Homo sapiens: one gene and its partners. The protein of the gene in region 2 interacts with the protein of the main gene of each other region in a pairwise test. Each region holds a gene or a part of one and is shown on either strand. Other genes may lie near its edges.

The links.
Region 1: the proteins of RBFOX2 (region 2) and BOLL interact in binary tests that used the Homo sapiens proteins (3 or more experiments, as listed by UniProt).
Region 3: the proteins of RBFOX2 (region 2) and QKI interact in binary tests that used the Homo sapiens proteins (3 or more experiments, as listed by UniProt).
Region 4: the proteins of RBFOX2 (region 2) and FAM168B interact in binary tests that used the Homo sapiens proteins (3 or more experiments, as listed by UniProt).

Annotation. Positions count from the first base shown.
Region 1 is NC_000002.12:197,767,680-197,775,528, reverse strand, and holds part of BOLL (protein boule-like), read left to right. Parts: intron 1-3,546; coding exon 3,547-3,674; intron 3,675-7,849. UniProt on the Homo sapiens protein: Probable RNA-binding protein, which may be required during spermatogenesis. May act by binding to the 3'-UTR of mRNAs and regulating their translation.
Region 2 is NC_000022.11:35,759,267-35,767,115, reverse strand, and holds part of RBFOX2 (RNA binding protein fox-1 homolog 2), read left to right. Parts: intron 1-1,632; coding exon 1,633-1,693; intron 1,694-5,647; coding exon 5,648-5,701; intron 5,702-5,821; coding exon 5,822-5,914; intron 5,915-7,083; coding exon of another isoform or gene 7,084-7,095; coding exon 7,096-7,228; intron 7,229-7,849. UniProt on the Homo sapiens protein: RNA-binding protein that regulates alternative splicing events by binding to 5'-UGCAUGU-3' elements. Prevents binding of U2AF2 to the 3'-splice site.
Region 3 is NC_000006.12:163,409,750-163,417,717, reverse strand, and holds the start of QKI (KH domain-containing RNA-binding protein QKI), read right to left. Parts: upstream 3,001-7,968; 5' UTR 2,754-3,000; coding exon of another isoform or gene 2,542-2,753; 5' UTR 2,525-2,541; coding exon 2,383-2,524; intron 1-2,382. Other genes in the region: basic proline-rich protein-like, read right to left, coding at 2,542-2,753, 3,050-3,469, 3,633-4,512. UniProt on the Homo sapiens protein: RNA reader protein, which recognizes and binds specific RNAs, thereby regulating RNA metabolic processes, such as pre-mRNA splicing, circular RNA (circRNA) formation, mRNA export, mRNA stability and/or translation.
Region 4 is NC_000002.12:131,089,836-131,097,985, reverse strand, and holds the start of FAM168B (myelin-associated neurite-outgrowth inhibitor), read left to right. Parts: upstream 1-4,525; 5' UTR 4,526-4,772; intron 4,773-4,823; exon of another isoform or gene 4,824-5,335; intron 5,336-6,022; exon of another isoform or gene 6,023-6,177; intron 6,178-8,150. UniProt on the Homo sapiens protein: Inhibitor of neuronal axonal outgrowth. Acts as a negative regulator of CDC42 and STAT3 and a positive regulator of STMN2. Positive regulator of CDC27.

The DNA of each region.
Region 1 (7,849 bases), on a different chromosome or scaffold from region 2:
AACTGAATATTTTTGCCACAAAATAATATATCTCAATTTTTTTGGCTGGGAAAAAATTTATATACATAAAGATGCTTAAGTATATTCCATGTAGTTACATCATTAAAGGAAAAAAAATCTTTCGTGATGAAAATATCATTTAATATAGCAAAAGTAATTAGAAGTAATTTAATAATTTAGACTTACTAATGAGAAAAATTTTAATTAGAAACTAATTTAAAATTAATCAGAGTAAAAATATTGAAAGTGAAAACATAGAACTAATATCAGAAACTCGCTGCATGCTGTGTACTGTAACCCAGCCAGGTGTGTCATAATTTTCAGGGGGACAATCCCTAAAGCTTTAGGAATTGGCTAAATTATGTATCTACCTTCCTCAAATTTCTCTAATGCTTTCAATTCTATCTTTCCTCACTCTTTCTACTTATTAAGTTAGGCATCTTTATAGTTAACTTTTTACCTTTAATATTTATTAAAATTCCTAACAGTCTTTGGCTAGAAGGAGAAATGTGATGTAAAATTTATAACTAACTTATTTTCCCTTAGCCACATCCTAGTGTCTACGGGAATGTTTAAAACATTAGGTTATTATATATAATCTGTTAACAAATTAATAGATTGTATTCATTTGGACTGTTATGCTTTTGACTTAGAAATAATAGATATTTGGTTAATACAGTTGCCACAACTACAACAAAAAAGAGATTGATGTATATTAAGTTTAATTTTGACTTAGTATTTGTTAATTTAGGAGACAATCAAAGTATCCTCAGTAGGTTAATACAAAATGGAATGCACTAAATATGGCAGAATGCTGAATATTTTCAATCTACTGTTGTTACTTGCAAAGGTTAAGCTAGAACATATAGTAACGGTCCGTTAGCCCATTATCACCAGCAATATGTACTAAATAGTAATGCTCATAGTATGATCTACCAGTTGCTGAAATAGAAAATAAATCAGCACTATGCTGAATGCTTTCACATATACAAATAGTTTTTTCAAAACTACTTAGTGCAAGGGTCAATGTTATGAGTTTTCATTTAATCTTCATAGAATCCCATGATGTATTGTTATCTCTATTTTTGTAAATAGAAAATTCAATCCCAAAAAGATAAAGTCATTGTTTTAAAAATGTTTCTGCTGAAATACTCCTAAAGGTAGAGGAGAGTTAATCTTGGCATGTTGTGGTTCCTAACCCACTGCAGCATACTGGAATTGCAAATTTTCTTTAAAGTCTCATGATTTATGCAAAAACATCATGTATAATTTGCATTCTGTTCCATAATATCATATTGTTTATTTGAATATAAAAATATTTCCCAAAAACAATTGAATAAAACTGATTCTGTAGGAAGATTACTATGTTCAGCCTCTGCTTTTTCATATCTCCTGGTATACCATCCATCCCTTATCCAACTTTAAGAAGTATGGGGTTAAATAGCCTAATGGTGAGTGGTAGCACTAGCCTTCAAATGCAGGACTGTTTGACTCCAAAGTTCTTTTGACTTTTCTGCGAAGAAAAATAGGTGTTAAAAGTACATTTACAAATAAGGGATTCTTATCTTAGTTTTTTCTTAGATCTGTCATTTCTTTCCATCTCCATTACCAACACCCGAGTCCCAACTAACCACTTTGTTTACCTTAATTCCTGGAAAAACATCCTAAGTGGTCTCTCTGAATCCAATCTTTCTACCTTCCAATCCATCATTCACAAGGCAGCCAGAGTGATCTTTCAAAAGTGCACCTCTTATTGTCTTATGCTCAGCTTATTTTGAGGTATTCTTCCCTTTTCTTTCCATGCTTTAGCCATGTAGCCTTCTTTCAGTTCCAGAACATTCTATACTCCTGTTCTCAGAATCTAATATACTGTTTTCTTTACCTAGAATGTACTTTGCCATCCAATTCATTCTTTAGAGCTTAGCTGAACATCATTTCATCACAAATTTTCCATATATATGTATATAGAGAGAAATTTTATATATGTTTTGTATACATAATAATTGAAATGTTCAGTATCGTACCCTATAATGCCTCATGTATTTATCAAAATTGTATTTAATTAATTAATTGTGTAATCAACTAATGACTATCTTCACTACCAGACCTAACTTCTTTGAGGATACAGACCATCTCATGTCTAATTTTTTTATTTTTTGCTGTATCACTAGGGCCCTGTTCAATGCCTTGAAATAGTATGCACTGAAAATTTATTTATTTAGCAGGTAAAGCATGGTTCATTTTCTTTGAATAATGAACCATTATTGAATAATGAACCATTATCATTATCTTTGAATAATAGTGGAATATCTTTTGGGGGGAATCCATGGACCTCCAAAATTGTGTGTAAAATTGTGTTTGACTGTATATATATCTGAGGAAAAGGTCCCTGATTTTCATCAAATTCTCAAAAGGATCTAATTAAGAACCATTAAAATAAATAATAACAATACTAGATCAAATGCAGTGAAAATATAAAAGCTGAGGAGCAATAGTATTATTTAAAGTGGTAGGCCCATGCTATTTGAAGTGTGGTTTGCAGACAGTGTCATTTCATTGGAAGCTGTCAAAATGCAAATTCTTAGGCCCTGTCCCAGATTTACTGACTCAAAATCTCTGAAGATAAGTCCCTGGAATTTGCATTTTAGAAAACAATTTAAGTGATTCTAATTTATGGGAAATTTTGAGAAGCACTGGTATAGGTGGAAGAATTGTCAGTTTCACTAATTTATATAACCTTGCTGGTTAAGACCTAATCTAATTTGGCTAATTTAACTTTTAAAGTCTCCTCAATGACAAAAAATATATATATATCTATGTATATTATTTACTGTTTTTTGGTTTGTGGTGGGGGTTTATATAACTTGGCCCGGGAAAAGAGTTGGGGACCCCAGACTAGCCACATGAAGACTTGCGGTCATGTTTGCAACAGCAGCAGTTGTAGCAAAGGGAGACTAGATAGAGAATAGATCATAGAAAAGAGAGATAAAAGACAGCCATAGCATGAACGAATGTTTGCTGGTAGGATATCCAAAGAATTAGTAGGGTGGAACCAAAATGTCTTCAGGAAAGTAGAATCTTCTCCAACTTTACTGCCTCCATCATCTTTGGACTTTCAGAAATAAAAGGTCTAGCCAAGACCTTAGGAACTTCACTACAGTGTATGTTGTCTTGAAGTAACTTTAAATTATACATAATTTATATTTGTACAAATAATTACTTCGCTGATGATAGTCTAAATTGTTCAGCTTTGTGTAGCATACTGGTGTTGGAATCTGAATTGATACATTTTTGGTATTTCTTATTCGTATTGTTTTTCTTTTCTTTTAATCATCTTAAACTAAAAGCTTTAAGGTATTGAGTTTAAAAATACAGGCTTCAAAGATACTTTGACATAAGGAATTTTTTAAAAATATCTGTGACATTCAATTTTTACCATAGCTACATAGGTATATTAAGATAAATATTTTTCTGAAGTGTTTAGAAACTACATTTTTAACAGTTAAATTGAACATTTCAATTATTATTATTTAATCTTTGCTTTAGGTTCTAGTATAATGCCAGCAGCTGGAACAATGTATCTAACAACTTCAACTGGATATCCTTATACTTACCATAATGGTGTTGCTTATTTTCATACTCCAGAGGTAACTTCGGTCCCACCGCCTTGGCCTGTAAGTAATTTCATTTAAAAAAGGATTTCCATCTATTACTATCAATTTTTTAATGTTTGTTATATTTCTGAAATATCTTAACCACAGATAATTACAAATAATAACACACATCAACCAAATTAAATAGACATCAACATTTTGCCACATTTACTTAAGTTCTTAAAATGGGGAGTAAAGTAAGACAGCTTCAGGTCAATTCTCCTTACCCCCACTTCCTTACCCTCTTTCCTGTTCAAAAGTAAGCAGAATATCTTTCCTATTCATTTTATATATTTTTACTACAAATATATGTATTCATAAATGACATATAGTACTGCTTTAGTGGTTTTTATTTTTTATTTTTTGCATTTCTTTTTTTTATATACTTTAAGTTCTAGGGTACATGTGCACAACGTGCAGGTTTGTTACATATGTATACATGTGCCATGTTGGTGTGCTGTACCTGTTAACTCGTCATTTACATTAGGTACATCTCCTAATGCTATCCCTCCCCCCTCCCCCCACCCCACAACAGGCCCTGGTGTGTGATGGTCCCCATCCTCTGTCCAAGTGTTCTCATTGTTCAATTCCCACCTATGAGTGAGACCATATGGTGTTTGGTTTTCTGTCCTTGCAATAGCTTGCTCAGAATGATGGTTTCCAGCTTCATCCATATCCCTGCAAAGCACACGAACTCATCCTTTTTATGGCTGCATAGTATTCCATTGTGTATATGTGCCACATTTTCTTAATCCACTCTATCATTGATGGGCATTTGGGTTGGTTCCAAGTCTTTGCTATTGTGAATAGTGCCGCAGTAAACATACGTTTACATGTTTCTTTATAGCAGCATGATTTATAATCCTATGGGTATATACCCAGTAATGGGATGGCTGGGTCAAATGGTATTTCTAGTTCTAGATCCTTGAGAAATCGCCACACTGACTTCCACAATGGTTGAACTAGTTTACACTCCCACCAACAGTGTAAAAGTGCTCCTATTTCTCCATATCCCCTCCAGCACCTGTTGTTTCCTGACTTTTTAATGATCGCCATTCTAACTGATGTGAGATGGTATCTCACTGTGGTTTTGATTTGCATTTCTCTGATGGCCAGTGATGATGAGCATTTTTTCATGTGTCTTTTGGCTGCATAAATGTCTTCTTTTAAGAAGTGTCTGTTAATATCCTTCACCCACTTTTTGATGGGGTTGTTTGATTTTTTTCTTGTAAGTTTGTTTAAGTTCTTAGTAGATTCTGGATATTAGCCCTTTGTCAGATGGGTAGATTGCAAAAATTTTCTCCCATTCTGTAGGTTGCCTGTTCACTCTGATGGCAGTTTCTTTTGCTGTGCAGAAGCTCTTTAGTTTAATTAGATCCCATTTGTCAATTTTGGATTTGTGGCCATGGCTTTTGGTGTTTTAGACATGAAGTCCTTGCCCATGCCTATATCCTGAATGGTATTGCCTAGGTTTTCTCCTAGGGTTTTTATGGTTTTGGGTCTAACATTTGAAGTCTTTAATCTATCTTGAATTAATTTTTGTATAAGGTGTAAGGAAGGGATCCAGTTTCAGCTTTCTACATATGGCTAGCCAGTTTTCCTAGCACCATTTATTAAATAGGGAATCCTTTCCCCATTTCTTGTTTTTGTCAGGTTTGTCAAATATCAGATGGTTGTAGATGTGTAGTGTTATTTCTGAGGCCTCTGTTCTGTTGGTCTATATCTCTGTTTTGGTACCAGTACTATGCTGTTTTGGTTACTGTAGCCTTGTAGTATAGTTTGAAGTCAGCTAGCGTGATGCCTCCAGCTTTGTTCTTTTTGCTTAAGATTGTCTTGGCAATGTGGGCTCTTTTTTGGTTCCATATGAACTTTAAAGTAGTTTCTTCCAATTCTGTGAAGAAAGTCATTGGTAGCTTGATGGGGATGGCATTGAATCTATAAATTACCTTGGGCAGTATGGCCATTTTCACAATATTGATTCTTCCTATCCATGAGCACGGAATGTTCTCCCATTTGTTTGTGTCCTCTTTTATTTCGTTGAGCAGTGGTTTGTAGTTCTCCTTGAAGAGGTCCTTCACATCCCTTGTAAGTTGGATTCCTAGGTATTTTATTCTCTTTGAAGCAATTGTGAATGGGCGTTCACCCATGGTTTGGCTCTCTGTTTGTCTGTTATTGTGTATAGGAATGCTTGTGATTTTTGCACATCGATTTTGTATCCTGAGACTTTGCTGAAGTTGCTTATCAGCTTAAGGAGATTTTGGGCTGAGATGATGGGGTTTTCTAAATATACAATCATGTCATCTGCAAAGAGGGACAATTTGACTTCCTCTTTTCCTAATTGAATACCCTTTATTTCTTTCTCCTGCCTGATTGCCCTGGCCAGAACTTTCAACACTGTGTTGAATAGGAGTGAAGAGAGAGGGCTCTACGCCAATAAACTAGAAAATCTAGAAGAAATGGATAAATTCCTGGACACATACACCCTCCCAAGACTAAACCAGGAAGAAGTTGAATCTCTGAATAGGCCAATAACAGGCTCTGAAATTGAGGCAATCATTAATAGACTACCAAATAAAAAAATTCCAGGACCAGACAGATTCACAGCCGAATTTTACCAGAGGTACAAAGAGGAGCTGGTACCATTCCTTCTGAAGCTATTTCAATCAATAGATAAAGAGAGAATCCTCCCTAACTCATTTTATGAGGCCAGCATCATCCTGATACCAAAGCCTGGCAGAGACACAACAAAAAAAGAGAATTTTAGACCAATATCCTTGATGAACATTGATGCAAAAATCCTCAATAAAATACTGGCAAACCGAATCCAGCAGCACATCAAAAAGCTTATCCACCATAATCAAGTTGGCTTCATCCCTGGGATGCAAGGCTGGTTCAACATCACGAATCAATAAACATAATCCATCACATAAACAGACCCAACGACAAAAACCACATGATTAATCTCAATAGATGCAGGAAAGGCCTTCGACAAAATTCAACAGCCCTTCATGCTAAAAACTCTCAATAAACTAGGTATTGATGGAACGTATCTCAAAATAATAAGAGCTATTTATGATAAACCCACAGTCAGTATCATACTAGATGGGCAAAAACTGGAAGTATTCCCTTTGAAAACTGGCACAAGATTTTTTCTTCTTTTTTAGTTTTTTGTTTTTTACTACAAGAATATATGCTATTTTTTATTTTTAATGCTATAGTATTGCCACTTTTCACTTCTAGATCTTAAATCTTGAATTTATGTATCGACTAATCCACCTATTTCCTGCTATTTTGAAATTAATCCTCTGCCAAACACTAAGTTTCCATGTGTGTGGGTCTTTTTTCTGCTATTTTGTTCCATTGGTGTATTTGTTCACCTTGCCCAGTTGTAATTATTTTGACTTTATAACGAGTCTTGAAATCTTAAAGTACATTGTTCATCTTCAGGAGTCTCTCATCTATCCTTATGTCTTTGCTTTTATGTGTATAAATTTTTTAATTCAGTTTGTTTAGTTCAGTGAAAAGCCCTTTTTTTTATTAGAATTGCATTAAATAGTGTGAATAACTTGGGACATTTCAGTATTTTAAAATATTGAATCTTCCTATCCATGAACATGATACATCTCTCCATTTATTTGTCTTATTTTACTTCTATCCATAAAAAAGTTTTCTTTCTCCATAAAAAAGCGTGACACATTTTGTCAAATTTATTCTTAGTAGACTATAGTTTTGTTGCTTTAATGAATGCTGTTTTTTAAATAACATTTCCTAATAGATTGTAGCTGGTGTATAGTAATGCTCTTGATTTTTCAATAGTGATAATCTATCAGTAACCCTGCCAAACTCTCATTTACACAATTATTTATGATTCAGTGTACTTCTATTTCTTTCACTTCTTTTTTTCCTGGAGTTTTTGCACTGACCATGTCTCTGCTACAGTATTGATGTAGTGAAAACATCATGACCTTGTTCTTGAAAAAGGGAGCAATTTCAGTGATTCACCATTAAACTTTACATGTATGCATGCATGTATACATACATATATAGACACACACACGCATACTTTGTAAGTGGGAAGATACTCTTAACCAGACTTTCTCAATCTTAGCACTGTTGACATTTTGAGCCAGATTATTTCTTTGCTGTGAAGGTCTGTCCTGTGCACTGTAGGATGTTTAGAAGTATCCCTAGGCTCC
Region 2 (7,849 bases):
CCCTTGCACATCTTACTCAGAGTTACTGAACTCCAGTTTGGCTGGTTTTATTAATGCACTTCCTGCCCCTACATCCTTCCCTACTTTTCCTGTTTCCCAAACCCCCGTTTGTAGCTCTGACTGTTCTTTCTTTGCCCGTTACACCCTTCCTGACTTTCTCTTTTCTTTTTCCCTACCTTACTCTCTTTTTCCGGATCCTTGTTCCTGTCCCTTTCCCTATTCTTCCTTTCCCATCCCTTCAGTTACACGCAGCTGTTGGTCTCTTTTGCTGACTGGTGGTTTCTGATTGGTTCTGGCCATTTTTCCTTTTAAGTGCTTGGTTGCTTTCTGCTCCAGCAGCTGGTTTCAGCTCTTGCTCCATTCTAATCCTTGTCTGTGAGAACCTTGCTTTTCAGTTTCTCCCCTCTTTCCAAAATTGATTGTTTTTTCTTTCTTTTATTTGTGTGTGTGTGTTTTTTAACTGCATGCTCTCAGTCTCATCATTGTTGTATCCCATTCTTTCTTTTTAAATGTGAAACGTTTATATTATTTGGTGGGCGAAGCTAGAGTAAATGGAGTTTCAAGCTCTTTCCTCATATGGGGGATTATCACTGTACAAATCTTAAAAGACATAGGAAGAGGTTTTTTTTTTAGTTCTAATTCTACCTAAAATTGGTCTTTTCATAACAAAAATTTATTACCATACAAATTGAACACAATGTAAATTTGAAGAGGCAAAAATAAGACATTTATATTTTATGCTTCTTTTTTCAATTGGCATGTTTTATGACCTGACAACACAGTATAAGTCAAGTTCTATGGTGGAGCTTTACCCTCCTTGCAAGAGCTTTGAGACTGGTTCTGTCACTGGGCTGCAGTATGCTGACATCTTAGTTCCATTCATCTTTTCTTCAGCAGCAGCATCTTTGTAACACCTACTTACTCTAGCACTGAGAATGCTTTAAAATATGCAGTTCTGTAATGAGGGTGGAGAGTACCATAAAACAAAATAAATAAACACTTTATTTTCTCAATTCTTTTAAGTGCCTACTTTAAAGGCTTTCTTAAAAGCTTTGTTCTTAAATTGATAGACCATGTAGTCTAGAAAATTCAGAATGGTCCTGAAGGCTGTCAGCAGGGGAATCTTAGGTTTCTATATTTGTTTACTTACCTCAGACAGTAAAAATCTCTGACAGACATATTTAAAATGCTGAACATTAGGACAGGTGAAATCAGATTTATTTTATCACCTTTCCATCAATCTATTTCATAACCCATGTGGCAAGCCTCTGTTTTATTAACAGACTTCAAAGTGAATTGCTAATATAGTTTCCTATTTACTTTTTTCTGTGTTTTCCTTAGTGCAGAGATTTCTCTGTTAAAAAGATGTCCAAAGATCTTGCAAATGTATTTTCTTTGGAGTACTGATATTTGGAAACCAAGAAACTCACTTTACTCTTGTTATCCTCATTTGATAAGAACTTTAATTAAAATACTATATATTAATATTTTATATTGCTGTGTTAATTATTTAAATCACTGCTCTCAGAAATTTACATTTTAAACTAAATACTCTGTTATTGGATGTGCAACTTTATGTTCCCTAATGTGGTCCACTTCTTCCCTGCCCTTTTTTCTCCTTGTTATTTTTAGGTGAATAATGCTACAGCACGTGTAATGACCAATAAGAAGATGGTCACACCATATGCAAATGGTAAGAAATTATAATCTTCGAAAGAGTGTTTATTCTTGTGTAAATATATGAAGTTTTTATAAACTTCTAAGAATGTCTTTATTTCCGTCTTAAGACAGTTTGATTTGTGTTGAAGTAGTCTCTTTACCTGGGAGAGTATTTTATTTTTACAGAATAACTTTGTCATTACAATTGAGCTAAGTTTTTAGTTATTAAGGTGTTATGTTCTAAGTAATGTTCATCTTTTACACAGTGCAAACATGCTATCTAGTTGCCTATTAACCCAAATTGGATCCCACCTGAGCACCTTCTTTTTCAGCTGCTGTAGCTCTTTCTAATATGTTAGACTTGTCCGTAATACCCCTGGATGCCCACTGACTCTTACTTTTAGTTCTGACTTTCATTCATCTGAGCATAAGTGGAATAAATTAGGAGGATATTTTAATCACTTTTATAATTCTGGACCTGTTGCTCTCCTTAGCCCTAGAGATAACAGCCATGGGTATGGTTGTGTGTGTATCATTTTCTGTTTCATGATTACATATTATATAGTAAGGTTTATAAGTTTTTCTCATTGAGAAGGAAATTTTCTATGAATAATTTGTTACATCAGTTACCAAATTTAATCTAGACTCATGGTCTCTGAATGAGATGGAATATAAATTTAATCTGTAGCCCAGTGGTGGTTTTGCAGACTGTTCTGCAGAGCCAGTTTGGGAGAGAAAAAGGAAACCAAATGGATTGAATTCTGAGGTCTCAGCTGTACTTTAGTCTGAGCAATTAGGGTTCTGCATAAGCTTTTACTAATATCTAGAATAAAGGGGGGAGTTTCTGCTGGAGTTTTTTTTTTTTTTTTTTTGAGACGGAGTCTCGCTTTGTCACCCAGGCTGGAGTGCACTGGCGCAATCAAGGCTCACTGCAAGCTCTGCTTCCCAGGTTCACGCCATTCTCCTGCCCTCAGCCTCCCGAGTAGCTGGGACTACAGGCGCCCGCCACCACACCTGGCTAATTTTTTGTATTTTTAGTAGAGATGGGGTTTCACCGTGTTAGCCAGGATGGTCTCAACCTCCTGACCTCGTGATCCGCCCACCGTGGCCTCCCAAAGTGCTGGGATTACAGGCGTGAGCCACCATGCCTGGCTCTGCTGTTTTTTTAAAAAGTTTGAACCCACTGCTAGAGTATGGCTGTATGTGCTAATAATGTCTTAAATCAAGGAGAAATGTATCCGTATTGACTATATCCCATAAAGTCTTCAATAAATATATTTAGCCCAGCTTTTCACATAGATGATACAAATTTATCAGCATAATTTGCATTTTTCCTTACTCCTTTTATCGGTATGATACCACTGCCTCCCACTTTACCTCTTATTTTCTTTTCACTGCTCTTACAAAAACAAGTCTCTACAATTTTGATAAAAACTCAAAGTAAACAAAATAGAAAGGAGAGGCAAAGAATGTCAAATTTTCTTTACATCTAAGGGAAATATTGTGACAGAAAGAGCCTCTGACTGGAATTCAGAAAACAGACGTTCTCCTTCTAGGTTTGACTCTTTATTTACTCCGTGACAGTGGACCAGTTTTTTAACCTAATTCTGTTTTCATATTTATAAATTGAGACCACAGATTTTTGGCACCAGGATTTTTTAAGAAATTATTGAAACTCAACCCTCCCAGCTTATTATTAGGAAATGAGACCCAGAAAAGTATAGTATTGACCTCAGATTGCAGATGTGGTATCTATTTTACCTTCCTCTTTGGGTTTTGTGAAGGTCAAAGGGCATCTGTGAAAATACATTGTAAATTTTCTAAAACTAAATATATTCAAAGTATTACTAACAACATGTCAATATACATCCATTATATTGATTTTTGTTTTTGTTTTGAGGCAGAGTCTCTCTGTCACCTAGGCTGGAGTACAGTGGTGCGATCTCAGCTCACTGCAACCTCCACTTCCCGGGTTCAAGCGATACTCGTGCCTCAGCCTCCAGAGTAGCTGGGATTACAGGTGTGTGCCACCACATCCGGCTAATTTTTGTATTTTTAGTAGAGACGAGGTTTTGCCATGTTGGCCAGGCTGGTCTCGAGCTCCTAGACTCAGGTGATCCCTCCGCCTCAGCCTCCCAAAGTGCTGGGATTACAGGCTTGAGCTACGGTGCCTGCCCATTATGTGGATTTAAAGGGAATGCTCAGGCAATAGTGGCATTGGTAGGAAAGAAAAAGGTTATTTTTTAAAATATTATTCTAAATTAATATTCAGGTTTAGTAGGCAAGAAACCTTCTGCTATTGTGTTAAAGGTCCTAAGAAGAATTTGTTGGGTTCCTCCTAATGAATTCTCAGTCAGCATTCTCATTTAGGTTGGTTGGAATCTCTTAATTTGTGCAGAAATGTTGCACAGTATTTGTGTAATTTGATGTTGCAGAATATTTGTGTTCTTACAATTCAAGTAGGATTTGAACCTAGATTTTGCCAGAATTTTATGTGGAATATTGAAGAGACATTGCATTTTATGAGCACATAAAATGATGAATAAGAGATTGGATTGAATCAGAGTGAATAGGTTTTCACTTGAATAATGTCTTGCTTACAGTCATTTAAATCTGGTAATTTCAATAATTCTTTTGAAAAGGCCAATTGTGGCTGGACGCAGTGGCTCAAGCCTGTAATCCCCAGCACTCTGGGAGGCTGAGGCGGGTGGATCACCTGAGGTTAGGAGTTCAAGACCAGCCTGGCCAACATGGTGAAACCCCATCTCTACTAAAAGTATAAAACTAGCCAGGCATGGTGGCACGTGCCTGTAGTCCCAGCTACTTGGGAGGCTGAGGCATGAGAATCACTTGAACCCAGGAGCCGAGGTTGTGGTGAGCCGAAACTGCGCCACTGCACTCCAGCCTGGGTGACAGAGCAAGACTCTGTCTCAAAAAAAAAAAAAAAAAAAAAGAGGAGGCCAATTCTGGCCTTTTTCTTTTCATTCGTATATTTATAGAATAGTGTGGCACAATGCTAGGGTCTTAATATAAAAAGACAAATGAGTCAGAAAATATATAATATAGAGTATTTTTGCTTATATGTAAAATTCAGTTAATATTGATTAAAGTTTTCATGTGGAATTCTACTTTTATTCACTCGCAGTGAGCAATCGTATATTATTCCTTTTTAAAAAATACTTGCCATATTCCTATAAATATAAAAAAGGGAAAGAAGAAATAAAGTTGACATTAAACATAATGTTATTTGGAAACTCTTAATATTTATAAATATTTAAGCTAATGTTCCACAGTATTCTGGTGTTCTTTAGCTAAGAAGTCTGATTAACTTAAAGGTGATTATTACACATTAAAGCCTCAGAAAACATGCACTGAAGTTGGGAATGTACCTTGAATTTTACTATTTCATGTCTTTCCTTTTTTAGTTGGTGAACCCCAGTAAAATCCCAATGGTAAATCCGAGTAAAAGTGGATTTCAGTTTACCTGGAATACCAGCATTGTATAGCCAAACATGGAGTCAAAGATCTAGGTTGAATTTGAGTTCAGCCCATGGATACCTTTATTAAAACAACTAGAGTAATAAACAGGGTTGAGAAAATGCATCACAGCATGGTTCAGAGTGACATATAGTCGGCCTTCTTTTTTTAAATGAAGGATAGGTCATCCAGGGTAATTCTGTGAGAACACTTTACCAAACTCTAGGATTTATTTCTATTTATTTTTTCTCCTCTCATTCCCTCTCCATCTTCCTCCTCCCAACATCATGACACCTGCCAAGCCCCCCAGCCCCAGCCCCTCATTATCTCTTCACTGTGTCCTAGTTCTACTACTGTTACTCTCTCATATAAACCCCAAGCTGGAATTCCAAAGAGAAGTTGATAATAGGCAAAAATAGCCCCAGAGATGGCTGAAGCCAACTTGACATGCACTGATCATCCCTTTCCTCAAACAGTCTTAAATGCTTACCTTCCATTTTGTGTGTTTCAGGTTGGAAATTAAGCCCAGTAGTTGGAGCTGTATATGGTCCGGAGTTATATGCAGGTAGTATTTAAGTAAATGTTTCCACTTGTGCTATTTAATTGTAATAGCATCTGCTGTTTTTCAATTTGTGACTCCTTTTTAATCTTCTTGCATTTTTAAATTTTTTAAAAATCCAATCAGCATCCAGCTTTCAAGCAGATGTGTCCCTAGGCAATGATGCAGCAGTGCCCCTATCAGGAAGAGGGGGTATCAACACTTACATTCCTTTAATCAGTAAGTAGCCTATGTTGGCCTGGCATGGATTTTGACTGTTGTGAGTGAACTATCATGTACTGTTTTTTTTTTTCCTAGTACAGTACATAACTGAAATGGAAATTTCTTGAGAGGGATATTAAATACTATCCCAGTGCCCTGTCCTGCTTAACCTGTGCTAGAATTTTCCTGACCAAATATTAAGATTGCACAAAGCAGAAATAGTTGGAAAAGGTAGAGGGGGTAAGGGCATATGAAGAATATTTTAGTCTGTACTTGACGATAAAGAAAACAAAAGAAGCAAGTATGTGTAGAGCATATTATACATTTCCTCTGCGAGTCAGCCACAGGTTCTCCAGCAGAGGATCACTTAGAAGTACTTCCAGTATTATTGATTATTCCCAGCTCTCTTGATCTCTCTAAGTCATTTTGACCTGAGCCATTTTACTCCAGCAAGAGGTATAATTAAACAGGATTCAGTGGACATGGAATCAATGTCTCTGCATGCTTTCCAGAGGACAGCACACTTAAAATAGGCTCTTAGAAATTGTCTGCCTCTTTAAAGGATATGAGGCCCCTAGAAATTGTCTGCCTCTTTAAAGGACAGGGTAGGAGTTGTTTCCCTCACCTTACATTTGTGGATTAAAATGTTTTAAATAAAAGAATGAAATTGACTAATGAAATGAAATGTCTAAAGACTATTATGTGCCTTAGAGGTTGGTACCATGTAAAAATATAAAAAGAATGTTCTTTTGAGTAATAATTATTATGTGGACATAGTAACATTGGGAAGCAAGGTTAATAACTGACCGGTTGAAGAGTTTGTGTCAATCTGATTTAGACTGCCCACAGTAATTAAAAGTCTGTCTCTTATTATGGCAGTCATTCTCAGAGCTTCTTGACCTGTTTCTCAGCAGCTTGCATTGTAAAGCTGAAATTGAGAAGGAACAGAGAAGCTCACTCAAGATTTGTGATGAATGAGGCATGGAATCTTTTGCTTTTGCATGTTGGGTCTCTCTTTCCATTTCTTCCCCACTGAGAGACCCAGGGTAGAACGTTTATTGAATGCATGCCACCTTTTCCAAAAAGGTGTGGTTCGTATCTTTCCATCTTTTCTATAATTGGTTCATAGCAAGTTGTGACTGTGCACCTTCTATTGAATGCAAGTTGAAATTTCTGTCATATTTTGGGTCTCCCTTTAGTTCCTGGCTTCCCTTACCCTACTGCAGCCACCACGGCAGCCGCTTTCAGAGGAGCCCATTTGAGGGGCAGAGGGCGGACAGTATATGGTGCAGTCCGAGCGGTACCTCCAACAGCCATCCCCGCCTATCCAGGGTAAGCGTTAGATTCCAAAATCAGTATGTTTCTAAAATAAGCAGTTGGACCAAAAAAGAATACCATGGCCCTTTCATAACTTCTGGGATGTTGCCGTGTCACAGAGTAGGCATTCAGTGAATATTTGCAAATTAACAGATTAGATGACAAAAAACAAAATATACCATCATCAGAATGTGACAAACTGTCAATTCATTATAAGTCTTCATTTTGGCCACCTTAAGCCCTCATGGTAATGGCTTAAGACAGTAGCCAGAACCGTCTTGTGTTTACTAGCAGTGTGTTGGCATGAAGTTCACTCAGAAGCGCACGAATATGGATTAACATTACTGCAGAGAACCAAAAGAGGAGCTCAAGATTGTAGTACAAGCCTGCATCTGCTGTGTTCACCTCCTTATCACCACCCCGTGTTGGGGCAGAGGCTGTCACATGTGTCCTCCCCTTTGGTTTCACTGCCTGGGTGGTGAGCAGCAGAGCTAGTTACCCACAATGGATTTGCTTTCTTTGTAGGAAACGGATTAAAAGAGGTTAATTCTAAGATGAACCAAGTCCAATTGAATCAAGGGAGAAAGGGAGAAGTAGGAAGAATTAAACTGCAGTTGGCTTCTGAATGATGGTAAA
Region 3 (7,968 bases), on a different chromosome or scaffold from region 2:
CCACATTAAAAGGGGAAGGGGAAACAAACATTATCTAGGAGATATCATAGTGGTCTCTTACATTTAAAACGCAAACGAGTACTATTTCCAACCAGAGAGAAATAAGCCTTTGTCAGAGACAATGACATAATTGAAATTTCTGGATTTGAAAGATTAAAAATTATTAAAGCCTAAGGTTGGAAACTTGATAACAAGGAATCAGCTCTAAATTTAGAGATTTTAGATCAACATAAAAGCACAAGAAGCCTTTTAAAACTAAAGAACGCAAAAGTATGCAGCTTTTTAAATAGTATACATAAGGTGAAAGTATTTTCAAACTTTTTTTTGGAATCTCCTATAGTCTTTGAATTCGACATTTCAGGAATGCAATTTAATTTTAATTAACCCTAAATATTGCCAAGGCCTATTTTCATTTTATCGTCGATAAAGGATTCCTTCTAAACAACTGCACTCAAGAAAACAAACTTTCACCAGAAATTGTTACTAATACTACTAAAACTTTAACTTAACCAAAATATGCCAAGGAGAAGACAGTAAGAGTGTTATTTTGAAACGTCATAAAGTTGTGCCAATAATTTTAAGGAAAGTATTTTCAATGTTCGAAAACACTATATAAACACATTATGACAAATCAAATAATCTATAACTTAAGTTTCAACTAAATTTAATATAGGTCAGTCAGATTGAGTATGTTACACATTTTGTTCCAACCATTTCCATGGTTAAAAAATAACTGGCGCCCCTTAGCGCTCACATTTGGAAATACTCAATTTAAGAGTTCCAGCATTTTTTTTTTTTTTTTGACATTCCAGAAAGTTTTCTGCCTCCACAATCTTTCAAATGCCAACACAAATAGGAAAAGCAGAACCCCTTAAAGGGACAGCTCAGGTTTTCTCTGGAGCAACTTGAAATTAACAGATTTGCTGTTCCAACAGCGGAAAATGCCCATTTCAACGTTGGTGAGTGCTGTATGTTTAACATACGGAAGCAAAACGACGAGAAAGCCGTAACACCTAACCATTTTCTACTTTTAAGTTGTTTCTATGACTTTCAAGACAACAGAACTCCTGGGATTTTTCTTTAACCATTTTTTATCATGGAAACATTTCCGGCCTTTTGTTCTCTAGTGACATTCCAACTCCCCAAGCTTCAAACTCCTGTTCCCCGACTCTATTTTTAAAATCTCGAAATTCTTGCGAAAAATCTAAACTCCATTGTTCATCTCTTCAACCTGTAGTTTTCAGTTTCCTTTACACAGTCCTCCGGTGGTGCCTCTAAGCAGGAAAAAAAAACAAACAAACTCCTGGCCAGTCGATTTTCGAAACAGACTTTTTTTGTGGTCTTTTTTTTCTCTAGGCGTCCACAGAAACCCACAGCTACTAGAAATTAATACTTCAGGTACTGCTATGAGAACTTCTTAAGGAAATTCCAAAGTTGGTCAACATTAATCTTCTTGTCATTCTTCACTCCCCACAGCGCTCCATACAGCTTTTTGGAAACTTTGGCTCAATTTTATTTCGCCCTTTCCAAACGTCTCGAAACCCTGTCCTACAAACTCAGGCGGCTGCGTCCCCGGGAGCAAACCCTCCGCCCAAGTTCTTCTAACTCAGGCTGCGCTCCGATCTGTCATCGCGTTATTTCGCACTCCACCCCCCCCCCCCCCACCCCCGAAAAGTGAAGTTCAACTCCCTAACAGTTCTCGCTTCCCCAAACAAAAGGGAAAAAAGTGCTTTTCGCCGTCACTTAGTCCTCCTTGTCGGCTACGCCAGCATAATTTCGGTCTCCTACGGAATTTCTTTAAACTAACGAGCCCCACACTGACTTCCACTTAGTATTGAACAGCTGCACCAACTCCCCAACCACGAAACCCCGCTTTAGTCCTCACGGGAGGGGAGAGCTCCCGAACGCGGGGCGGTGGGGGTCCGCGCAGAGCAGGCTCGGGAGGCCGAGCGGAGGAGCGGGGCCCGCGCCGGGCACACGCGTCCTCCAGGCCGGCGGCGCGGCGTGGGCCTGCTCTCGGGAGGGCTCGGCGAGGACCACCGAGTCCGCGCAGCCCCCGCCGACCTCTCGGAAATGTGACCGCCGAAGCTAGAGGGGCCGCAGGGCTCACCCCGCAGCCCTCCGCAACGCGCCAACTTGGACGCCAGCGGCGCGGGGTCCCGGCCGGGCAGGGGGCGTCCGGCACCGGCGGGTCCACCCCGGCCCGCCCGCCCGCCGCAAGCCCGGCCCGGCACCTCCTTTGTGCGCCCTCCTGGCCTCCCAGTCCCCCCGGCGCTCGGTCCCGCCCGGCCGTGACCTTCCCGCCCTCCCCACCATCCCAAGCGGGGAAAGGGGCCGCCCCGGCGGGGGTCGGGCCGGGGCCGGGGCCCTGGAGACGCTCACCTTCGTCCAGCAGCCGCTCGAGGTGGTTGAAGATCCCGCAGAAGTTGGGCAGGCTGCTCATGAGCTTCTTGTCGTTCATCAGCTGCATCAGGTAATCTGGGGTGGGCTTCGGCTTCTCCTTCGTTTCCATTTCCCCGACCATATTCCAGGCTCCGCAGCTCACTCCGCCCGCCGCCGCCGCCGCCGCCGCCGGAGAGGAGGGAGGGGCGGGGGCGAGCCCCGGCCGCGGGCCGCTCGGGACCCGGCGTCCCGCTCCGCGCCGGCTCCCGCTCTGGCTCCCGCGCCGAGCCCCGGGGCGGCCGGCACCGCGCGCTCGCCCGCCCCCCGCAGGCACTTTCCGCCCGGGCCCGACGCGCTCCCAGCCGCCGCCGCTCTCGGCCGCCCGGCTCGGCGCGTCCCTCACGAGGCCGGCGGGCGGGCGGGAGGCGGGTCTCGGCTGGCCGAGTGCGGGCGCGGGGCGCGGGCTGCTGGCGCCGGACGAGGAGGAGCCGGGGCCGCCGCTCGCTCGGCTGGTCGAGCCCGCTCAGCGCCGCCGCCGCCTGTGCCGCGGGCTCGGGGGGTCTCTCTGGGCTGGTCCCCGCCGCGGCGCCTCTGCCGCTGCCGCCGCGCTCCGACTGCGCTCCTCCTCTTCCTCCTCCTCCTTCTCCTCCTCCTCCTCCTCACTCACTTGGCGGCGGAGTTCGCCTCAGTTCAGGCGGCGCTGCCAGCGGCGGCGGCAGCAGCGGCGGCGGCGGGGGGAGGGGCAGCGGCGCGGGGAGGGCCGGGGGCGGGCGGCGGGCGGGGCCGCGCAGGGCGGCCGTTAGCGGGTCCCGGCCGGCGCGCTCCCGCTGCCTGCTGCCCGCCGCCCCGCGACCGGGGCAGCCGCCGGCGCCGCGCCCCCTCCTCCCTGCCTCCCCGGCGGGGCGGGCGACGGGGGCAACGGGAGTGTGACGGACTGCGGCGCTCGGCGGGCCTGGGCGCAAGGACTGGGTCGCCGCCGTGCGGGGCGCCCGGGGCGGGTGGGTGTGGGCTGCGGGGCCGACGGCCGCGGGGGGGGCGCGGGGCTTTCCACGGCACGGGGCGGGTGGGGCTGCGGGCGCGGTCGGGGCTGGCGCGGCAGGCGAGAGGAATTCCAGCGGGACGCGCCAGCGCTGCCTCCGCCTCGCCTCCCGTTACTATAGTTTTTTCAGAACCTCTTATCCACCCCGCAGAAGAGAAATTTTTTTTTAACGTCCTGTTGCTTCACGGGGGACTTTCGGGGTGGGCATCACGTGGCCCGACACGTAGCCGTGGGGCTCCAGAGCGCGTGCGCGCGTCGAGCCCGGTCGCCACGCCCCTTCCGAGGGTCGCTCCGCCCCCGTCGGGCCCCGCGAGCGCGCGGTGGGGGAGGGGAGGGCCCCGGAGCGCGCCTGCGTGGGGCGGGGGCGGCAGCCGACTAGGGGCTGGGTCTGGCCGTTTAGGGCCGGGTCTTGGCCCGTCGCCCACGGTGCGGAGGGCTGGTGGGCTTTCCTTGGCCGTCGGGCCCGCCACGGCGCGGGTCTTGGCTGCGGGGCGGAGGTGGGGCGGGAGAGCCGAGGATAAGAGTTTGAGGCTTTTCGAGGCGCGTGCCGCGGCGTCCGCCTCTGCGGGACTCTGCGCCGGGCGCCCTCGGCCGGCGCGCCCGGCTCCCGCTTTGTCGCCGAGGGAAGCACGCGCGACGCCCCTCCCGTCGCCGCCGTGGCTTCTTTCGGTGTTCGTGATTTGCTGAGAGGCTGGAAAGCAGCACGGCGGAGAGGAGCCTTGCACTCGCCAGGCGGGAAGCCTGCGCGGACACGCGTGCGCACCCACGGGGCGGCGGGCGGGCGTGGGGGGTCCGGGCCACGCGGGCGACGCGCCTCTAGGGAAGCGATCTTGTTGCACCTTCCCGTTATTCTGAAAGCAAATCGTAGCCAGACCCGAGCGCAGCGGCTTAGCAAATAATAAGGGGAGCGTCAGTCGTGCTCGAAATGCTTCCTTCGCGATGGCGTCAGTGTTCCGTGAGGGAATGAAGCCGCAGTAGGAAATAAAGAGGCTGTGCGCGTAGTCTGAAAAGCAGAAGTCAACATTTTTACAGATGAAGAAAGAATACGGAGGCAAGAGGTCTTTCTCTGCAGTTTGGTGGATTTCCAACATTTAGACTTGTTTGGAAGAATTTCCTCAGCTGCACCAATGAAGTCCTTGATCTATAGAAGTCGGCAGTCCCTAAATCTACGTCTGCATTTTGTTGCAAATCCTTTATAACATTCCATTAAAATAATGCAGAGTTATTTAATATCCAGTTGGCCATCGTGAGAGTAATTCGCGGCTGAGATTTTGTTAATCATTCTGTCTTCTGACTTAACAGTGAACGTAGGTGATTTTTTTTGTAAAATGTTGCTTCACATGAATTGTGAGAATCACCTCTAAGTTTGAATTGTACTGAAGGCACTATAAGAATTTCAAATGAACGCTGAGTAGCCAGTAGCCTTCTGGCCTTTTCGTTTAACAAGCACAGAGTTCGTTTTTAAAATTAAGTTACTTTGACAGAGGAAATGTAATAGCCTTGGTAGACAACATTAAAAATGTAACTGTCAGATGTTTTAAAGTCTCCAACAGCCGTATCTGTTTTAGAGCCATAGAATATTTACTTACTGAATTGCCTGTTTAAAGATGAACTTTCTAAATGCAGGGAATAGTAACTTGCAAAAAAGCTATGGTCTCTAAGTAATGAAGGCTGTTTCAGTACCTAGAAAAATCAAAATCAAGGTTTTGATGCTGCTAGTGTAAAAGATGCAATCCCCTTCTTAATGGCCTGCTTATTTATTAAGCTCCTAGGCACTATGCTGAATGCCCTACATGCATATCTCGTTTAATCATCAGTACAACTTGGGCTTAGGTTAGACTGTTATCCCCATTTTACAAATAAGGGGAAACCCAAGAAAGATGAAGTTAAGTAACTTGCCCAAGAATATAGCTAGTGAGTCCTGTGTCTGGGATTATAATCCAATTATATTTTATTCTAAAGCTTTTTTTTTTTTTTTTGCTTTTTTTCCTTGCCCTATCCTTTAAATCAGGTTGAATTTTATGACAATATTCCACCATTTTTGACCCATAGAAATGGCAGTGTCATAAGGCTCAACCACTTAAACCAGATTAAAGAACAATGATAGGCAATTTTCATTTCCTATGTATTAAATCACTTACGGTTACAGCATTTGATAATAGCTACTGTGTGTTAATTTTCTTTTTTTTGAAACAGAATTTCGCTCTTGTCACCCAGGCTGGAGTGCAATGGCGCGATCTCGGCTCACTGCAACCTCTGCCTCCCCGGTTCAAGTGATTCTCCTGCCCCAGCCTCCCGAGCAGCTGGGATTACAGGCATGCGCCACCACGCCTAGCTAATTTTGTATTTTTAGTAGAGACGGGGGTTTCTCCATGTTGGTCAGGCTGGTCTCGAACTCCCGACCTCAGGTGATCCGCCCCCCTCAACCTCCCAAAGTGCTGGGATTACAGGCGTGAGCCACGTGCCTGGCAGGTTACCTTTTCAAATCTATGTAGATCACCTCATTTCCTGACAGTCCCTCAATGGTTTCTTATCTCAAAAAAAAAAAAAAAAAAAAGGAAAGAAAGAAAAAATCCGAAGAGCTTACCAAGTCCTGCAAGACGACAGGTGTGCCCCTGGTGCATCACTGACCTTATGTCCTTCTCCTCCCACAGCCCACTTGGCTGCACCCCCGTGGAATCCGTCTGGATCCTTAAATATTCCAAGCATGCTTACCCTCCCCAGGACTCTGCCCTTGGTGTTTGCTCTCCTCGGAAAGCTTTTCCCCATACATCGGCGACCCCTGCCCCTATTTATCTTTAGAAGGTGTCCCTTAACACCCTATGTAAAATGGCGCCTTTGTGCACGCAAACACTTCCTCCCTTCTTCCATCTGCTTACCCCAGGTTCTTTTCATACCATTTGTTTCCACGTAACAATGGGTCAACTCGTTTGCCACTGGCATCAACATTGTAAGCTCCATGAGAAAAAGGAGTTTCTTCTATTAGGAATTTCCAACACCTAGATCAGCATATGGTACACGTAGGCACTTATTAAATATATGTCCAAAAGAAGTATTAAGTACTTGTTATGGACCAGAAGCTCTGCAAAACCCTTATCTTCATTGTTTATTTTCATCCTTACAGCCAATATTTGAGGTAGGCAGGAAGAGCCATATTTCAGAGATGAGAGGGCTGATGCTTAGGAGGAGTAAGTAGCTGCAGAGGGTCGGGTGCGGTGTTTGTGCCAGTAATCCCAGCATTTTGGGAGGCCAAGACAGGTGGATCACTTGAGCCCGGGATTTTGAAACCAGTCTAGGCAACATAGTGAGACCCTATCTCTCTAGAAAATACAAAAATTAACAGAGTCTGGTGTCACATACCTGTAGACCCAGCTACTTGGGAGATTGAGGTGGGAGGATCAGGGAGGCAGAGGTTGCAGTGAGCTGTGATCACACCATTGCACTCCAGCCTGGGCAACAGAGCAAGATCCCGTCTCAAAAAAAAAAATGTAGAAAGACTAACTTTGTAATAATTACATTATTACAAAAATGTTATCTTAATACAGTATTGAAAATAAATTACAACATGTAGTGAGTATATATACAGAATGAGCCTCCAGTTGAAGATCCCTATAATAGGTTTTTTCACTGTGAAAAATTGTCATCTAATATGTTGACACTAAAAATGGTTCCACATTCTAACATCAGTAATTAACCAGGCGTGGAAACATATTTTCTATTCTGTTAAATTTGATTGGCTCTATTTGCTTATTGCTATTCTTAACATTTAAAATAGAAATTTGCAGTATTCCAAACCTTTCTTTATCACCATAGAGTTCTCGAAAGAACTATAATGTTCCTTGGATATAAGATTTAGGGTTTTATGGCTTTTTGTCCCAGTGTTCTTTTTAAAAATCTTAGTCTTTAGATTTTCCTAAAAGGAATTGGGGCATTCTTGGTATCTTCGCAAAATAATTGTTTATTGTCTTAATAGATTTGAGCATCCTTTTAAATTACGAGATGGCGCTTTTTTTTTTTTTTTTTACTTTTTAAAATTTTTTTTACTTTTAAATTGTGAGATGGCTTATCAGGTACTATTTAAAAGATTGAAAATGAAACATTTCAAATGTGAATATCTTAAATATTTCCAGTACCTGTTATATGTAAATGCATATCATTAACCCTAAGGCATTTACAGGCTGAGCTGGGAGTTAATAGCATGTGCAGGTACATTTAAAAAGTTAACTAATAACTGCCACGTAAAGGCTAAAGACAAAAATGCTGTGAAAATACCGGTGAGCACCAACATTGCCTGCCCGGAAGCCATTGTAAGACCACACCGGGGAGGTGGATTTGATCTCGAGGCGGAGCAAAGAGTGTTGGGAGACAGCAATGACAGAACTTGGGAAGTGGAAAAGTACGAGGTGTTAGGGTAGGAGTTTCCACAGAGAGTATTTGATGCCAGATTTTGGTTGGCCTTGAACATCAAACTAGAGTGTTTGTAGGGGAAGAGCCTTGGGATTTGTGTGTGTGTTGGGATGGGGAGTGGGCGGAGATGGCGGCGGGGG
Region 4 (8,150 bases), on a different chromosome or scaffold from region 2:
TGGAGTCTCACTCTGCTGCCCAGGCTGGAGTGGAGTGGCATGATCTCGGCTCACTGCCACCTCTGTCTCCCAGATACAATCGATTCTCCACCCTCAGCCTCCCGAGTAACTGGGATTACAGGTGCCCACCACCATGCCCAGCTAATTTTTGTATTTTTATCAGAGATGGGGATTCACCATATTGGCCAGGCTGGTCTCGAATTCTTGACCTGTGTTTTAAGACAGAGACTTGCTTTGTCACCCAGGCTGGAGTGCAGTAGCATCATCATAGCTCACTGCAGTCTCCAACCCCTGGGCTTGACAATCCTCTCACCTTACTTGCCCCCTGCCAGTAGCTGGGACTGCAGAGTGCACCACCACATCCAGCTAATTTTTGTTTTGTTTTTTTGAGACGGAGTCTTGCTGTTCTGTGTCGCCCAGGCTAGAGTGCAGTGGTGTGATCTCGGCTCACTGCAACCTCTCCCTCTCAGATTCGAGCGATTCTTCTGCCTCAGCCTCCCCAGTAGTGGGGACTACAGGCACCCGCCACCATGCCTGGCTAATTTTTGTATTATTAGTAGAGACGGGTTTCACCATGTTGGCCAGGCTGGTCTTGAACTCCTGACCTCAGGTGATCCACCCACCTCCGCCTCCCAAAGTGCTGGAATTATAGTTGTGAGCCGCCGCACCCGGCCTGTGTGTGTGTGTGTGTGTGTGTGTGTGTGTGTGTGTATATATATGTTTTTTTTTTTTTTTTTTTTTTTTTGTAGAAAAGGGGCTCTTGATATATTACCCAAGGTGATCTTGAACTCTTGGGCTCAAACAATCCACCCGCCTTGGTCTCCCAAAGTGTTGGAATTATAGGCTTACAGGCATAAGACACTGCACCTGGCTGATGTTTGCTTGTTTGTTTATTTATTTGTTTTGAGACAGTCTCCCTCTGTCACCCAGGCTGGAGTGCAGTGGCGTGATCTCGGCTCACTACAACCTCTGCCTCCCGGGTTCAAGCAATGCTCCTGCCTCAGCCTCCTGAGTAACTGGGATTACAGGTGCCCACCACAACGCCCGGCTAATTTTTGTATTTTTAGTAGAGACGAGGTTTCACCATGTTGGCCAGGCTGGTCTGGAACTCCTGACCTCAAGTGATCTGCATGCCTCAGCCTCCCAAACTGCTAGGATTACAGGCTTCAGCAACCACACCAGGCCAGATGTTTAGTTTCACAAGAAATGATTAGAACTTTATCCAAAGTGATTATACCATTTTGTACTCCCATCAGAAATATATATATTTTAAATTATTACTATTTTTTGAGACGGAGTCCCACTCTGTTGCCAGGCTGGAGTGCAGTGGTGCGATCTTGGCTCACTGCAACCTCCGCCTCCTGGGTTTAAGCGATTCTCCTGCCTCAGCCTCCCCAGTAGCTGGGACTGCAGGCGCGCCCCACCACGTCCAGCTAATTTTTGTATTTTTAGTAGAGACGAGGTTTCACCATGTTGGCCAGGATGGTCACAATCTCTTTTTTTTTTTTTTTGAGCCAGAGTCTCGCTCTGTCACCCAGGCTGGAGTGCAGTAGTGTGATCTCGGCTCACTGCAACCTCCGCCTCCCGGGTTCAAGCAATTCTCCTGCCTCAGCCTCCCCAGTAGCTGGGACTATAGGCACGTGCCATCATGCCTGGCTAATTTTTTTGTATTTTTAGTAGAGACGGGTTCACCATGTTAGCCAGGATGGTCTTGATCTCCTGACCTCGTGATCAGCCTGCCTCAATCTCCCAAAGTGCTGGGATTACAGGCGTGAGCCACCACGCCTGGCCAAGATTTTTATTTATTTTTAATTTAATTTTAGAGTAGGTAATGTATTCACGTGGTTCAAAAATTAAAAAAAAAAAAAAACCCAAACATGAAAATTATCTTTCTCACCTCTGTCCCCTATCTGCTCAGAGCCCACTTTTTCCCAGTCTCACCACAGATAATCATTGCTGGTAGATTTTTGGCTATTTTTTGGTATTTCTGTAAATATGACAATATTCTGTAAATGTAAGTAAATACAGATATATTTTTTCATTTCTACCTTTTTACATAACATTCTTTTTTTTTATTTTTTATTTTTTGAGACGGAGTTTCGCTCTCGTTGCCCAGGCTGGAGTGCAATGGGGCAATCTCGGCTCACTGCAACCTCCGCCTCCTGGGTTCAAGCAATTCTTCTGCCTCAGCCTCCCGAGTAGCTGGGATTACAGGCATGTACCACCACGCCTGGCTAATTTTGTATTTTTAGTAGAGACGGGGTTTTCCCATGTTGAGGCTGGTCTCGAACTCCTGACCTCAGGTGATCCACCCGCCTCGGCCTCCTAAAGTGCTGGGATTACAGGCGTGAGCCACCGTGCCCGGCTTTACATACTATTCTTACACAGAGTTCCATACCTTGGTTTTTTTTCATTGAATAGTCTACCTTGGAGATATTTTCATTTCAGTACATACAAAGTTTCCCCATTTCTTTTTCAAGTTATAGGCTATTTCACTGCATGATGAACCAGAGTTTACTCAGTCATTTCCCTAGGTGTGGACACTAGGGTTTGTTTCCAGTATTTTGCTACTATGCACAATGCTGCAATTAATAGGTGTGAACTCATTTTATTTCACACATCTATAAGTATCTCTGTAGGCAAACTCCCAGAAGTGCAGCTGTTGAATGAAACATTGTTTGTGCGTTTATTTTGACACACATCATCAGACGATCCCCTTTCCCATCCAGCAATGTCTGAGAGTGCGAGCTTCCTGGCAGCCTTACCAATAGCATTGTCAATTTTTTGGATGTTTGCCAATCACAGTGAAAACTGCTACCTCAAAGAGTTTTAACTTGCATTTTTCTTTATAGAAGTGAGATTGGATATTTTTCATATGACTAACAGCCAGACTTAGTCCTTTGCTGTGAACTCTCCTTTTTCTATTGGGTGGTAGGGCTTTTTATTGTTGACTTCTGGAAGCTTTTGGAATATTAAAGAGATTAGCTTTGTCTATTACATGTGTTGGGACTATTTCTTCCTTGTTAATCATTTATCTTTTGACTTTGCTTATGGTGCTTTTTGCCGACCAAAGCTTTTCATAGTCATGACTTCTGGATTTCAAGTAATAATGTAGAAAAGCCTTCTTTACTCCAATACTAAAAAGGAATTTCCCCATGTTTTCTTCTTGTCCTTTTATCACATTTATATTTTATTTTTATTTTTTTTTTTGAGACGGAGTCTTCCTCTGTCGCCCAGGCTGGAGTGCAGTGGCCCGATCTCGGCTCACTGCAACCTCCGCCTCCCGGGTTCAAGAGATTCTCCTGCCTCAGCCTCCAGAGCAGCTAAGGTTACAGATGTGCGCCACCACGCGCAGCTAATTTTTGTATTTTTAGTAGAGACGCGGTTTCACTATGTTGGCCAGGCTGGTCTTGAACTCCTGACCTCGTGATCTGCCCGCCTCGGCCTCCTATAAGTGCCGGGATTAAAGGCGTGAGACACCGCGCCCATCTGTTTTTATTTCATAAACGACTGAAAAAAGACCAGAGCCAGGCCTCCTCCCTTCCATCACTAATCTTTATTGCAATAACTCCCTCCTTTGTCGTCCTGTACCTAGCTCAGACCAGACGACACCCCAAACACAAACACCAAGACACGCACCTCTTTAATACGAAATAATAAACATACCTCCCCCAGAGAGACACCCTGAACTAACCAAATCATTGTAACTATACACTAAGCCTTACATAAAAATACTAACATTTGGCCGGGTGCGGTGGCTCACACTTGTAATCCCAGCACTTTGGGAGGCCAACGTGGGTGGATCACCTGAGGTCACGGGTTCGAGACTAGCCTGACCAACATGGTGAAACCCCCGTCTCTACTAACACAAAAATTAGCCAGGTGTGGTGGCGGGCGCCTGGAATCTCAATTACTCAGGAGGCTGAGGCAGGAGAATCGCTTGAACCCGGGAAGCGGAGGTTGCAGTGAGCCAAGATCGCGCCATTGTACTCCAGCCTGGGTGACAAGAGCGAAACTCCGTCTCAAAAAAAAACCAAAAAACCCCCTAACATTCTAGTACACTTCCCTGAACTCTTGTCTATAGAAATGATCCCGCACTTCTACACTTGAAACGCTGACTTGCATTCTCTAAAATCTGCACTCCTGAGCGGGCGCCCGCAGCCTCCGCACTGGCAAAGAATCTGTGAGCTGAGCTCCGCCCCGCTCCGACCCCGTAGTGGCGGTCACCCGGGGTGTGCTCGACTCCCGGGTGCGGCCTGAGGATCCGCGCCCTGGCGTCTGGGCACACACAAAGGTTTCTGCGGCGCGGGACTATCTCAAAATATAAATTAAATACTTTTTTCACAGACAGTTAATAAAAAAACTACAGCTACACCCGGCCCTTTCGCCAACTGGGACCGGCCCACTCCGCGCTCGCGCTCGCGCTCGTCCATCCGGGCGTCTCGAGGGCGCCGGCGGGAGCGAGCACGCTGCGCAGTCACGTGCCCGGCGCGCCCCCGTCGCGGCGCGCTCAGGCGGAAGTGAGGTCGGCGGCTCCGGTGGCTGCGCAGCGTCGGCGGGGAGCGCGGGCTGCGGAGAGGCGGGCCGGGCCAAGCGGAGCCGAGCGAGCGGGAGCGCGGCGTCCGGGAGGCGGCGGAGACGCGGGGCTCGGAGGGTCAGCCTCTTATCGTAGCAGGTCTCCTCGGCACGCCCCCCTTGTTTCGCCCCACGGCCAAGCCCGCCGCGGGCCGGCGTGCGCTGGTCACTGAGGCCCAGGTCGCCGCCGCGGCGCGGTGAGTGGGGGCGGGCAGCGGGCGACTGCGCGTCCAGGCCGGAAGTGCGGCGCTTTGTGCGGCCGGCTCGGGGCGGCGCCAAGGTCGGCCCGCGGCTCGGGGTCGCTGGGCGTCTGGACCGGCCTGGGCTGCGCTTTGTGCCGCGGGCAAGGCCGGGCGGGGGCCGGGGGCGGAGCTCGGCCGGACACGTACGCGTGCAGGTGCGGTCCGGGCGGCGCGGGCCTGCCGCCTAGGTGGCCGAGGTGGCTTCGCGGCGCGGGGCGTTCTCCTAAAGGTCGGGGTCACAGCCGTCAGGAATGCGAGCGTGAAACCCGGGGGCAGAGCTTTGTGACAATAGTCATTTCCAATGTGTAACTGCTCACTTTGTCTACCCACGAAGTAAAGATAATTTTTATTTTTATTTTTTTGCTTGGCGGAATCTGAGCGTTCTCCTTCCAGCTTGAAAAGGCACGATTTAAATTACAGATTTTTAAGATTTCCTTCAGAAAGGACGTTTCGTGGCCTAGCCTGGGTTAACTTTGAAAAAAGAGTGCAGTGCGCCTTTACGACGTCCACAAATAAGGGTATTTCTGTTTTATAGTGTATGTGAACATGAAGTGTGCATCTCATGGGCTGTTTGAGTTAATGTTTAATCATTAAAGTCAAACAAGAATATTTTGCAGTGTTTTCGCATGCAAGGAAGCTTTATAAATAAAAAGGTTTATATAGTTTCCACTCCTTAAACTTTCAGGTCATCCTTGTGTAATTTGAGATCACTTTTCTCAAATACTATGGATGAAAGATTCTAGATTAAATAAAACTTTTTGGTTTTGGCAAAAACAGGACACATTTTTAAGCTCTTGTAGATGAAGGAGTGGGTTATTTTTGCTTTGACAGCCAAGATTTGAGCAGTGTAAGGCTATTCTAATTTTGAAGCTAGTGTTGCAGAAATTGTGAAGATCTTGCTTCTCTTTGTCTTTACAAAGCAGGCTTACTTTGGTGGAGTTCCGTAGTTTAAAGGGAAATTATACCCAAGTTGTCTTAGACAGTTTCTTTTCCTGGATCAATTGAGCACTTTTTTTTTTTTTTTTGAGACGGAGTCTCCCTCTGTTTCCCAGACTGGAGTGCAGTGGCGCCATCTCGGCTCACTGCAAGCTCCGCCTCCCGGATTCACGTCAGTCTTTTGCCTCAGCCTCCCAAGTAGCTGGGACTGCAGGCGCCCGCCACCACGCCTGGCTAATTTTTTTGTATTTGTTTTTTTTTTTTTTTAGTAGAGACGAGGTTTCACCGTGTTAGCCAGGATGGTCCCAATCTCCTGACCTCGTGATCCGCCCGCCTCGACCTTCCAAAGTGCTGGGATTACAGACGTGAGCCACCGCGCCTGGCCGAGCACAATTTTAAAAGAACAGTACACCAGCGTAATAGAGTAATAGTTTTTTCATGCCTTGTGTCCAGTCTGTTAAGTCTGTCTGATTGTACTGTGCAGAAATACATGAATTCCTCCCAGTAAAATGCAAACCCAAACCTTGGTAATGAAGGTAAAGTTTGGGGGAGAGAACTTCTTTTCTTTTTTCTTTTTTTTTTTTGTGAGACGGAGTGTCGCTCTGTCGCCCAGGCTGGAGTGCAATGGCGTGATCTCGGCTCACTGCAACCTCCGCCTCCCGGGCTCAAGGGATTCTCCTGTCTCAGCCTCCCGAGTAGCTGGGATTACAGGCACACACCACTGCGCCCAGCTAATTTTTTGTATTTTTAGTAGAGACGGGGTTTTACCATGTTGCCCAGTCTGGTCTTGAACTCCTGACCTCAGGTGGTCCACCTACGTCGGCCTCCCAAAGTGCTGGAGACACCACCGCGCTCGGCCTATATGCTTTATTTTTTATTTATTCATTTATTTTTTTGAGACAGTTTTGTTCTGTCGCCCAGGCTGGAGTGCAGTGGAGTGATCTCGGCTCACTGCAACCTCCTCCTCCCGGGTTCAAGTGATTCTCCTGCCTCAGCCTCCGGAGTAGCTGAGATTACAGGCACATGCCACCCTGCCCAGGTAATGTTTGTGTTTTTAGTAGAGATGGGGTCTCATCTCACTATGTTGGCCAGGCTGGTCTCGAACTCTTGACCTCAAGTGATCCACCCGCGTTGGCCTCCCAGAGTGCTGGGATTACAGGCGTGAGCCACCGTATCCAGCTTCTTTTTTAAAAATATATTTTTGTCCAGGTGTGGTGGCTCACGCCTGTAATGCCTGCACTTTGGGAGGCTGAGGCTGGCATATCACGAGGTCAGGTGATCAAAACCATCCTGGATAACATGGTGAAACCCCATCTCTACTAAAAATACCAAAATATTAGCCGGGCATGGTGGCAGGCAACTGTAGTCCCAGCCACTGGGGGAGGCTGAGGCAGGAGAATGGTGTGAACCCGGGAGGTGGAGCTTGCAGTGAGCCGAGATTGTGCCACTGCCCTCCAGCCTGGGCAACAAAGCGAGACTCCATCTCAAACAAAAAATTTGTATATATTATACATATATATGTTCATTTTGTAGAGATGGGAGTCTCACTATATCGCCCAGGCTGATCTCAAACTTCTGGGCTCAAGCAGTCCTCCTGCCCCAGCCTCCCAAAGCACTGGTGTTACAGGCACTTGCCACCAAGTCTACAAGCTCTTGTTGATGTTGCCAGACATTACTGAGAATTTCCAATGTTGATTTTTCTGAGTATTGTATCTTGTATATTGGTGTTTCTGAGAGTGAATCTAAACCTCTTAAAATTAGATTTGTTGATATAAAATTTTAAAGGCCTCGTGTTATAGTATTTCATACTTAGTGCTCTGTGTGGAACTTTGTTTAGAGATGGTATGTTTCCAAACCAGGAAACAATAGTATATAGTGATAGGTCTTTCTTTCTTTTTTTTTTTTTTTTTTTTGAGACAAGAGTCTCGCTTTGTCGCCCAGGCTGGAGTGCAGTGGCACGGTCTGGGCTCATTGCAAGCTCAGCCTCCTGGGTTCACGCCATTCTCCAGCCTCAGCCTCCTGAGTAGCTGGGTACAGGCGCCTGCCACCGTGCCTGGATAATTTTTTTTTTTTTTTTTTTTGTATTTTTGGTAGAGACGGGGTTTCACTGTGGTCTCGATCTCCTGACCTCGTGATCCGCCCTCGTCGGCCTCCCGAAGTGCTGGGATTACAGGCGTGAGCCACTGCGCCGGCCTCTTTTTTTGAGATGGAGCGTCCATGTCGCCCAGGCTGGAGTGCAGTGGTATGATCTCGGCTCACTGAAACCTCTGCCTCCTGGGTTCAAGTGATTCTCCTGCCTCGGCCTCCCAAGTAGCTGGGACTACAGGTGTGCACCACCACCGCTGGCTAATTTTTGTATTTTTAGTAGAGACGGGGTTTCACCATGTTGGCCAGGCT